Homo sapiens: one gene and its partners. The protein of the gene in region 2 purifies or fractionates together with the protein of the main gene of each other region. This does not show direct contact. Each region holds a gene or a part of one and is shown on either strand. Other genes may lie near its edges.

Region 1 (4,074 bases), about 45 Mb from region 2:
CTTTAAGTCCTTTCTCCCCAGTTTGGTTGTAAACAACTTACAGGCATGACAGTCATACATCTGGCCAATCTGGATGAAGGGAACAGAAACCCATTCAAGTCATTTCAAGGGGGGGAAAAGAGCTTATTTTAATGCTACTTGGGAACTAGGGCTATAAAATTCGGGAGGGCAGGCTCCAAGGTCTCGCCACCCTCTCTCAGGATCTGTGTCTGCCCATCCATTCCATTTTCTTTGCTATCTCTCTACTCACTCATAGTTTCTGCTTTCTTCTATCAGCAGCATTCCCATGACTTATTATGGCCACCCATTCTCTCCCATACCAGCCTATTCACCTCTGCTCCCTTCTGCTTTTACTCTAAATCTCTAACTTTAATGTTTTCAAGAGAGATATGATTAACACAGAGACTCTTTTTGAGCCAAACCACAAGGTTACAAGTGTCTGAGTCACATAAGAATTGGTTGACCCTGGGTCAGGAGCCAACCATAGTCCAATCAGCTGAGGCCAAAAAGGCTGCAGTTCAGAACAAGGCCCTCTAGGCAGCAGGGCCTCTCTCAAAGGAGAATATTCCTTAGGAAAGGTAGGACTATATTTTTTAGGAAAGAAATATTTCCTAGGAAAGAAAAGTGTGGGCAGAGCAGGCAATGAGCCACAACGCCAGCCCCACAGAGTCATTATTTGTCTTCACCACAGTCCCAAGCACATGCTGAAGCTATAATAAACTGGAATCAACTAATCTCAGGGGAAAGGGTCATTCACTCACCAAGCACCACTATGGCCCTGACACTGTGCTGGACGCACAGGGAATACAAAGATTAAACAAGCAGCAGTCCTTGTTTTCCCAGAGCTCTTAATCCAAATGTGTCACTGAACTAGTTACTTGACCTTGGGCAAATTACTAAACCATATGGGCCACAGTTTCCTCAACTATCAGATGGCACTCCACCTTCACCAACCTCCAGGAGTGTTGTAAGTTTCCATAAAGTAATCTTTGTAAAAGTACTTTGGAAAATACACAAGCCAATCAAGAACAATACTGCAGCCCTGTAATCCCCTCACATGCCACAGGTTTTGCAGTGCTCTCAGACTTTTTCTCTTCCCCTTATTTCCCACAATATAGGACCCATCAATTGCTATTATTTAAAAGAACACCACCAACTATTACCATTCTACTTTCACTATCTCTATGACTAATTTCACTCAGAAGTGTAAAAAAAATGAATTTTTACAGTGTGCATTTTAAAAGTATAATGTATTCAACTGTGTATGTAAAACTATAATGCCCTATATAAGTATTTTTTGGGTATTACAAATGACAGCATGTACCGAATTCCTATGTAGTACACAGGCCAGTTTTGAATCTTGCTTCGTCTTCTCCCCACAGCAGTTTCATTTAATATTTCCTAAATACTGCAATCAGAAAATTTCAGGGACCCTATTTTTACAGGGAGCCCCTAAGGAGAAAAAATGGCCTGTCTCCATCCCTGAAATCCAATTCTCCTAACTTATATATTTTTCTAAAACCACTTCACCACCTGTCTCACATTAAAAGATGGAGGTGGGGAGGAAGAGTGGGAATCAGCGATGATGGCAAGATAGATTTCTGAAAAACATGTTATTCCACCCTCTGCAGGATTCAAGTACAGGTTTATGGGAGAGGACAAACAAACCTTGGGATATTTACAGTCTTGGCTTTGACGCGAGCAAAATCAAATAATATTTACAGAGTGCCTGCCACATGGCAGGCAGGATGTTGAGGGCTCCTCGGAGACGATGAAGAGTCTGGGCCCTCGGAAAGCTTACTTGCTTCTACCCCGGAGCATCTGTTGCTCAGTGTTGACAACCATGGCCATTCAAGAGCTGGCCCCAGGTGGAGCAAAGAAAACAGCTTCCACCTGGCTGAAAAGTCAGCTCAGCTGGCCGAAGTGAGGGTTTCGGGCAAAAGGGAAACACAAAAACGAAACCTCAGACGCGAGCCGGTGGGACTCCGCTGCAGGAGGCAGAATTGCAGAAGCTGTAATGCAGGGAACCCACTCGGCACCCGACCCCGATGAAGGCTCCCCGCGCTTCGAGAGCCAAGGGACTACGGATCAAAGGATCCTGCAGCCGGGGAAAAGCAAACTCGCTTCGCTGGGAGCTCAGATAGGGGGTTGCAAAACGGTGGGCGCCGGAGGCAGGGGCGGCGGGCTGGGGATCTGCTGAGTGGAAATCGAACTGGTGGGGAGGGAGGTGGGCAGGGCGAGTGAGCTCAGTGACTGGGACCTAATGGTCACACTGCGGTGCAAAGCACGCCTCGGGGCTCCCGCGGAGAACACCCATTCGAGGGTACTGGAGCCTGGAAAGGGTCTGCGAGTACACTGGGGGCAGCGCGGGGGGAAGGGTCCCCTAGGGGCCGGGCGCGACAGTCGGACTGCCGCCGGGGAAGAGGTAGGATGCGGTCTCTTCCAGGATAAACACACACGCTCACACACACACTCGCTTCCCGACCCCGGGCTAGCCCCGAGCCTCGGCGGCCCCTTACCTTCGGCGCGCGAGCGGATCTCCGACACGGTCCTCCGCATGGTGGGCATCGCGGCGGCGGCTGCAGGTGGGTCCTCAGCCCGGACTCTGCACCTGTCACGGCGTGGTACACGCGGGAGACCCGGCTGCGCCGCGCAGAGCGCTCAGCTGCAGCCTGGGCCGCGCCGCCGCCCACCTAGGGCAGAGCTGCCGCCGGGCGCGGCCCCCGCACGCCGACAGGAGGAGGAGAAAGGCAGCGGTGGCGGCGAAGGTGGCGGCGCCCGCAGAGCTGGGCGAGCTCTTGCTGCAGCCGCGGAGGGGCGGCTCGGCGAGGGGCGGAGCTCGGGCGCCGGCGCCGGGGGAGGGGCCTGCGGGGCTCGCGCTCCCCCTCCCGCGGCCGCTCAGCAAGGAAGGCGGGTGAGGGGCGGGGAGAGCCAGGGGGAGCCTCCTTCGCCCCGCCCCGCCCCGCTTCGGACCGTATCACGACTCAAAGGGGGGATCAACTCTTAGCCTCCTTAGTCCTCCAGCGTTTTCGCTCCGCCCTGTGGAGTTGGTTGACCCGGTTCCTCCTCCAGGCCACTCGGACTCTCTCACATCTTGCTCAGAAAGGAAAGACTGCTCTGGCTGCTGCATTCTCACGAATCCCCTCCCGCTACCCCTGGCTTTTGATCGCAGTGGAGCCGCCCGTCGTCCGGAAAGAGCTGTTGGGTCTGAGCCGGCAGGCGAAGGCGAAAGGGTCTGGGACTACAAGGTTTAGCTCCCAGCCAGAGCAGGAAAGGAACGACTGACTGTTCGCCATCTGGGTGTAATTCTAACCTCTCTGCACGCCCAGCCCGACTCGTGGCCTGAGCCGCACTTGTCCTCCTGCCTCGCCCACTAGCAACAGGCTGCCAGGTCGGGAGGCCCCTGGTGCCCATGGTGCTCTTGTCCATGGGGCTTGGGTGCATCTGGGCCCCGCCTGCAAGTGGGCCCGGTGCATCTCCCTAGTTCAGGCTCTGCAGCCTGACAAGGCACTGAAATAGCAATTAAGCCAACTAAGTATTGGCCCAGGTGGTTCACAAAAGACTTTTTTTTTTTCTTTTAGTTAAATCTGCATAAAGTTGGATGCAGTCGTTTTATCTGCAAAGGGGAGAGGAGTCTTTGTATAAAATCCATAAATATGTTAAATTTTAATTTGCCGATGTCCTTCAGACTATCATAGCCTCATTACCTTTTATTTTGTATACCGAGATCTATGCTAAAAAGTTGTCAAAACAAATACTTCACCTTCAAGTTAAGATGTAAGGTTTTGTGCTGTTTCTGGCGAGCTGCTGAACTGGCAGGAAAGGAATAAACCAGAAACAATAAATCAGAAGCAATTTGCTTCTTCCCTCATTTCATGCTCTTCCTCCAGCAACCAGCGAAAGAGATCCTCACATAGAGGCCTTTTATTTGAGATCTTTTCACATCCTGAAGGGAGAGAGCTGGAGAGGTTTGACCTGAGAGAGAAGTGATTATTTCCAAGCCTCAGGAAAAAATGAAATAAAATCTGCTAATAGCGTCCTATCTCCATTTGTGGTATTTCTTCTGCTTCCTGC
Region 2 (3,500 bases):
AGCATCCAAGAAAGGGTTCACAGAAAAAATGGGCTAAATTTGTTGTTATCTTGTTTGTGTTTCCTTTTTATCCACTGATTGCAAAGCCACAGAGATCATAGAGCCTTCCAAGCAGGATAAGCCACTCATAGAAAAATTAGCGGAGATTTATGTCAACTCCTCCTTCTACAAAGAGACAAAAGCTGAATTACATCAACTTTCCGGGGGTGAGAAGAAGAAGAAGATCACAGTCTTCAAGGAGATCAGCTACACCACCTCCTTCTGTCATCAACTCAGATGGGTTTCCAAGCGTTCATTCAAAAACTTGCTGGGTAATCCCCAGGCCTCTATAGCTCAGGTAACCAGCAGATTCTTTTGAAATACTCAAATGGGAACAATGTGGTTCTGTTATCATCTGCTTCAGGATATGTTTATCTTCTACCCACCCTTCCAATTATTTGTTATCTTCACTCCACCTGGGATATAGAACCAGTCAGCAGAACAAATAAAGGACAATTAAGTTTTACTTTTGGAAAGCTTCCCTTTTTTTGAGACAGAGTCTCACTCTGTTGCCCAGGCTGGAGTGTGGTGGCATGAACTCAGCTCACTGCAGCCCTGACCTCCCTGGGCTCAAGTGATCCTCACACCTCAGCCTCTTGAATAGCTGAGACTACAGGCGTGTCCCACCACGTCCAGCTAATTTTTGTGTTTTGTGTAGAGATGGGGTTTCGCTGTGTTGCCCAGGCTGGTCTTGAACTCGTGGGTTCAAGCGATTCTCCTGCCTCAGTCTCCCAGAGTGCTAGGATTACAGGTGTGAGCCACCACATCTGGCCAGGTTCTTTTTTTTAGTGGTTTCTTAGACTACCTAACTCAGAATTTTTGTTGATTTAGACAAGCTGTAATGAATAATCTGAGTAGAAAAATTTTTTTTTTGGGAAATTGTGAAAGAAGTGTCAGCCAGTTTTGGGGTTTTCTGGTAGCTGTTCACTTTTGTTCACTGATTCATTCAACTTGTTCTTATAGGGCCTGTGCTGTGCTTTAGGGATGTGAATTCAGTAGTGAACAAAATGGGCAAAAATAAAACTCTGCTCATGGAGCTAATTTTTTGAGGAAGACAGTTATGATAAATAATAAAGAAATTAAATAGATAGCATGTTAGATGGTAGAAGAAACTATGGGGAAAGTTTAAGCAGAGAAGGGGTGGAGAAAGGGGAGGAAGAGAGAGAAGTAGGGAGAAGAAGGTTGATTTGCAGTTGGAATCAGGTGATCAGGGAAACCTTCACCTACTGTCACTGAATACACCTGAAAGGGAGTATGTGCTGGCCACTCCAAGGGAAGAGCCTGTGTGCAAAGTGCTGTTCCTTGTCATTTACCTTCCTTAGACAGTTTACAGGTGAAACAAATGTAGTAAGCAAATTTGAGTTCACAGAACAAGGCTATTCATTGTTAGATTAACTTTCTGTTAATCAAAATGAGATAATGTTTCTTTGTTCCTTGGTTGGCTCTGTGATAGTTGGTGATTATTACTCCTTGTGGTTTTTGTTATTCTTTTCTTTACACATTTTTTTTTTTTTAGAGACTGGGTCTCACTCTGTCACTCATACTGGAGTGCAGTGGTGCAATCATAGCTCACTGCAACCCCAAACTCTTGGCTCAAGCGATCCTCACACTTCAGCCTCCCGAGTAGCTGTGACTACAGCCGTGCACCACAACACCTGGCTGATTTTTTAATTTTTTGTAGAAACAGGGTCTCACTATGTTGTCCTGGTCTGGATCTCCTGGGCTCAAGCGATCCTCCTGCCTTGGCCTCCCAAAGTGCTGGGATCACAGGTGTGAGCCACCATGCCTGGCCTTTTCTGTTATTCTTAACCCCTCTGTCACCCAAAACATTAGTACTCCCAGTTCATTGGTCCATTCTTCAAAGAAGTCAATTTAGCTGGTTATTTTGGGGCTGTTATTTTTATTAACAATATTGAGTTTCTGTTGAGTACTAAAAGATGGCACATTGTTGGCTCTAGTAAAATATTACTGACGTTTAAACTTGTGCATCATAATTTCTATACTTAAGTATATATAAAATATATCTAAGAGCTTGTATCCCTAGTTAAGCCATACTGCTAATTATGTATATATATGTATATATGTATAGCCACATATATGTATGTATAGCCATACTGCTAGTTAAGTATATATATAAATTTATCTAAGAGCTTGTATCCCTAGTTGAACCATATTGCTAATTTCTCCAAATGTTTTTGGTACGTATAATTTGGTGTTTCTGTCAGAACACTGGCACTTTTATATACTATCAATTAAAGGCAAAATTTTATTCTTTGAGCATAGATTTGATATCATTTGGAAATCAGTCTGGTAGGATCAACCTGGGTTACTTATTGTCAACAGTGAAATAATGTAATGAATTGCTTTTTTAGTGTGATGTATGCATTAGATTTTTCTTACTTGGAAAATAACTTGAATTATCTTGCTTCAAAAAATGGTTTATAAATGTCTTGTCCAAATCGCCTATGTGGCAATACTGGAGAGGGCATAATTAGAACACAGAGCTGTTTTTCACACACTGAGATTCTGCATGTTTTGATACTGGGCTTCCTTCCAATGCTAACACCTGGCCTAGTGCCTCTAGGTTTAGCTTCCCTGCCTCATCAGTGAACTCACTTTCACAAAAGGAATTCCAGCCATGTTCAGAGCAGTGGCAGTCTCTTAGATTAAGAATAGGACCTTGTATCTCCCTGAGCATCTGCTTAGCAGGACAAGTTTTGTTTCGATTTGTGAAAAACTGGAATATTAGCTTAGGGCAGGAGTAGGCAATATATATTTTTTTTTTTTGTAAAGGATCAGGTAGTAAATATTTTAGGCTTTGCAGATCAGGTGGTGTTTGTCTCAGGTAGTCAGCTCTACCGTTTTAGTGTGAAAGCAGCCAAGCTCATAACATGAATAAATGAACATGGCAGTATTCCAATAATAAACGAAAGGCTGGCTAGATGCAGTGGTTCCTGCCTATAACCCCAGCACTTTGGGAGACCAAGGCAGAAGGATGCTTGAGGCCAAGAGTGTGAGAACAGCTTGGGCAATAAAGCAAGACCCCCTTTTTTTTTCTGAGACAGAGTCATGCTCTGTCGCCCAGGCTGGAGTGCAGTGGTGCTGTGTCGGCTCACTGTAACCTCCGCCTCCCGGGTTCAAGCAATTCTCCTGCCTCAGCCTCCCGAGTAGCTGGGACTACGGGTGCCCGCCACCATGCCCAGCTAATTTTTGTATTTTTAGTATAGACAGGGTCGCACCATGTTGGCCAGGCTGGCTTCGAACTCCTGACCTCAGGTGGGTCCACCCGCTTCAGTCCCCCACAGTGCTGGGATTACAGATGTGAGCCACTGTGCCTGGCCAAGACCCTATCTTAAAAAAAAAGGTAACTTTCATTTTATTCCAATGAAACATTATACATTGGCACTGAAATTTGAATTTTATATAAATTTTATATTGTGAGAAATATTATTATTCTTGAC
Region 3 (4,146 bases), on a different chromosome or scaffold from region 2:
GCAAAGGATGGAGGTGACTGAAGAGTGATATAGTCAAAAGCCCATTAAAGAACTGGACTGGAACCTACCCACCTGAAACTGCAAACTGCAGGACTGGACTCACCAGGTGCCATTGCTGCGGGTACTTGGGGTCGTTGAAGTGGACGCTGCGCTTGGCCCGCCTTAGCAGCCTCTGCTCTGAGTGCCAGCGCACAGCTTCATGCCCAGCCAACACAGCCTCCACCTGCTGCCGGATGGCCTCCACCTCCAGGGCCGGCCTGTGCCCAGCAGGCTGGACAAAGAGGTAGTGCCCCTGAAGCTCTCCGATGCGTCCAGCATTCACCAGCCCTGCTGCCTGGGCCAAGGCATCCGCCTGCTGCTCCAGAGTCTCTTCCTCCCCGTCACCTTCCAGGCTTTCCAGGTGCACAGCCCAGCTCGGCCCCCCTGTGCCCTGGCCATCAGGCCCACCTGTCCCTGCCAGGCCCATGACCCAGGGAACCAGTAAGAAGAGCCCGGCTAATTCCAGCCAGAGGCAGGTGGGCAGGCCCAGGGGGGCATCCAAGTGTGGCACTTTCTGCCTCCCCTTCGGCATCAGAGCAGTGGACTGCAGACAAAGAAAAAGGATATGGAAGAGATCAAAGAGCTGGTAACTGCAGGAATCTGAGAGGGAGATGCTGAGCCATCCATGTGTTCCCCCTGGAAGTCCCTAAGCCATGCCTTTTAAATTGTGAAACATTTGATCTTCTCTTTTTGTTCACATTTATCCCTGACCAACAGGGATAAGCCCCCAGGTGGAGTGTGGGCCAGCACTAACACCAGCGGATGGCCTCCCACAGCAAGACAGCCAATCCTCACGACACCAGCTAATCCAGCAGGAGGTCCAGTTGCTCACAGGCACTGCGAGCAACCCCTGTTGCCACCCACAGGGCTCAAAGCACACATCGCTTCCACAAACTACTGGCTGCATCGTGACTGTTCTTTAGCAGAGACAACCCCTTCACCCCTACATTTAGAGGGGACATAAATCTTTCCCTAGCTGACTCCTCAGTCCAGTTGTCCTCAAGGCTAATTCCCCATAACAGGGCCCCGTGCCCACCTGGATTCTACATGAGGTTGAGCTCCTGGTCTGGCTAACCACGTCACACTCATGTTGTGCAAATGGAGAAAAGGCATCACTTTCACTGTGAGTAGTGTTGACTCAGCAAAGGCTACAGACCTGTGGGATCCAAGAACAGAAGAAATAATGTCCCACCAATCCCAGGGCAACAAGCTGAGGTTAGATAAACTCCAGGACCAGGGACCAAAGAAACTTCATTAATTGTCATTTCCAAAGATCTAAAATCGGTCATAGACTGGAGCAGAACTGGTACGGTGAGGCCAAATCAGTATAACACCCAAAAAACCCACTTCCTGTGCTATCGTGCCACCCTCTTTTCATTTTGTTCCCCAGAGGCCTAGCAAAAAACAGTTACCAAAATGCCTCTTGAAAGAGTAGGTAATAACGTCCTAGAAGTCCAGGTGGTAGCTAACTTCTTGATTTGTATATCCCAGAAGGATACCAGGGAAAGTGAAAGGAGGGAGGCGGCGGGGGCGAAACGGGGAAAGCCAGAGAGTGCAAACAAAACAGAACAGGCACCAAGGACAAGCGGGCAACCAGGAGAGAACGAATGATGAGAGAACCTCACTAAGCAGCTACTCCTGTACTGAGCTCAGGAGGCTGGCTTCAAGGTGAGGACTCAGACTCCAGACTGGGACTCCAATTGCCTGGGTTTGACAGAACCAGGGAATTGGTCTCAGGAGCCCTCAAAAAAAAAAAAAAAGAGCCAAGTTAGAACTGGGGGACAGACAAATGGGGTGGCAGGACATGTGTGTACCTATGGTGGCTGGGCTCCTTTAAAAGCCTTTGCTCTCCACTGGGTCCACCCTGGGGCAGGGCTTAGTACTCAGATACACACCCAAGCGGCTCTACCTCAAAGCATTCCAGAAAAATGGGAATTTTACTGAAAGGCTTCCTGGAAAGGAGAACTTATGCCACCTCTCCTTTACCTCTAAAAATCTTCATACTACATTTCTTCCTCTCGTTTTCTCTTAGGTTTCCAGGCATATTCCCTCTCAATCCCTCCCTGCCCCCGGGAGCCTCAATTCTCCCAAGATATTTAGGTGTCTTCCCCAGTCTGCATACTCTACTAAGTAAACAAACTAACAAACAAAACCCTTGTTAGCCAGACAGTGGCCCCGCTAGGCAGACTCCTTCAGACTCAGTAGATCCCACCACAGATGTCAGGAAGAAAGAGAAGCAGGAGCTCCTTCTGTCTACTAGTGGCAAAGCAGCATTTTTATCCCCCAGGCTTCTGGGAAAGGAACCTTAAATGCCTTCTGAAAGCAGGTCTCAACCTCTCCCAACGGCTAGGCCTCCCTTTACAGCTCTTAATTGACAAGGAAGAAGAGAATGGGCAGCCTGGAGTCCAAGATCCTGCTCCCAAGCTACTGTCCTCGCTGTTCCACACCCGGCTCCTAGAAGCCAGCTTGGGTACCGGGTCAGTTTCCCGATTCTCCCTCCGTCGGCCTCGATCGCTCCGTGCAATGTGCCCCTCTCCTCATTAGCACCCACATTATCCAGGAATTCTGGGCCCTGGGGCCCCATCTCCTTGGTCCCCCACGCCAGGACCTCAGGCACCCTCTGTGCAGCTCCCTCATCCTCAGACGCCGGCTTCCCCCACTTCTGGGGCCCCCTGACCACCCAGGTCCAGCCCCACACCTAGTTCCCAACTCACCGGCCCCGCCGCAGCTGCCGCCGCCTCCCTGCGGAAACTCGCGGCTTCCCGGGAGCCGGAGGAGCAGTGACAGCAGCATCACTTCCGCCCGCGGCGCAGCCAATCAGCGCGGCGCCTGCGGCCCGGCGACCCCCGCGGGCCACAGCAACCGGCGCCCGGGGTCCGGCTCCCGCGGGCGGCCTACGCAGGCAGGGGCCGTGCGGGCGCTGGGGGCTGAACCCGCGGGCTCCGCCTCCCCGAGTCCTCGGGGCATCTTCCACATGGTCCCTCTTCAGAAGGCTCTCCTTCATGGCGTCCTCTGTAAAGGGCATTTCGGTTCCGACCTTTAAAAGCCACTCGTTGCTCTTCTCCTTCTGACCGCCATGGCCCCGACTGTCCCTGTAATCTTCCCAGAGGGGATCCTGCCCACCCAGGTCGCCTTCCTTCTCGCAGTCGGCTCTCCCTTCTTCCCCGCGCCCCGGGAGAGTCCACTTGTATCTCAGGGGTCTCCCGCAGCATCCCCGTGCCCCGGCGGCGCCAGCTGTCGCCGCCAGAGGGCGCCGTCGGGGGCGGCGCGGCGCCACCGCGGCCTCTCCTCTCGCGGCCGGAGCCTCGCCCCCTCCGCTCGTGCCGCCGGAAGTGGGAGGTGCCGCGCGCGGGCCGGCGCTCGACCCCTCCCCCCGTGGCTCGGCCGCCCCCTCCCCCCGCTCCGCCCGCTCAGGTGCGTCCCGTCCCTCCCCCACTTTCCTCCCGGGGGCGCGGCGCGGGAGGTGTGTGCGGGGCGAGCGTGGGTGGGGGTTGCGGGGCGAGGGCCGGGCATGGGGGTCGGGTGGGGGGCGTGGAGGGTGCTGTGAGAACCGAGGCGGGGGTCCCGGCCTAGAAGTGGGACGGGGGGGTGGCTGGCAGCGGGGTGGGGGGACCGAGGGGAAGGGGTGGAGGGGGGTCTGGTCCGAGCCAGCGGCCAGCCTAGCAGTCCCCTGTGGGGGGTGGCCAAGGCCACCCAGCGCCGCTTCCCCCCATTGTCCCCTTCCCGTCTGTCCCCTGTTCTCGCCCGAGGACCCGTGGCTCCGGCGCCCCTGCTTCGCTGGTGGTCGCCCCGGGTTGCGGAGTTCTTTTTGGTACACTCGACCCTCCAGCCAGCTGTTCCTACCCGCGCCACGGGCTCTCTAGCCACGGAGTTGCATGCATGGCCCTTGTCCTGGGGTTTCGTTCACCGGGCGCAGAGGACCCCCCAGCCCTGGGCTATGTTGGAGACGGGATGTTTGCACCTGAGGGAGCAGCAATGGCGGTTTGGGCCCATTTTCTCCCAGGAGCTTTGTATAATGAGGGAAACTGAGGCACAGAGGGTCTGTGGGCTGTGACTGAGGTGTTGACACAGCCCCATCTACCTATCTGCCCTATGCGCTCTTCAGTG

Evidence for each region.
Region 1: the proteins of ABCG2 (region 2) and ATP8A1 fractionate together in Homo sapiens (co-fractionation; one large-scale study listed by BioGRID). This does not show direct contact.
Region 3: the proteins of ABCG2 (region 2) and PCSK7 fractionate together in Homo sapiens (co-fractionation; one large-scale study listed by BioGRID). This does not show direct contact.

The regions. Positions count from the first base shown.
Region 1 is NC_000004.12:42,654,306-42,658,379, forward strand, and holds the start of ATP8A1 (phospholipid-transporting ATPase IA), read right to left. Parts: upstream 2,801-4,074; 5' UTR 2,569-2,800; coding exon 2,520-2,568; intron 1-2,519. UniProt on the Homo sapiens protein: Catalytic component of a P4-ATPase flippase complex which catalyzes the hydrolysis of ATP coupled to the transport of aminophospholipids from the outer to the inner leaflet of various membranes and ensures the maintenance of asymmetric distribution of phospholipids.
Region 2 is NC_000004.12:88,110,140-88,113,639, reverse strand, and holds part of ABCG2 (broad substrate specificity ATP-binding cassette transporter ABCG2), read left to right. Parts: intron 1-86; coding exon 87-337; intron 338-3,500.
Region 3 is NC_000011.10:117,229,274-117,233,419, forward strand, and holds the start of PCSK7 (proprotein convertase subtilisin/kexin type 7 preproprotein), read right to left. Parts: upstream 2,801-4,146; 5' UTR 2,754-2,800; intron 1,196-2,753; 5' UTR 1,076-1,195; intron 584-1,075; 5' UTR 572-583; coding exon 104-571; intron 1-103. UniProt on the Homo sapiens protein: Serine endoprotease that processes various proproteins by cleavage at paired basic amino acids, recognizing the RXXX[KR]R consensus motif. Likely functions in the constitutive secretory pathway.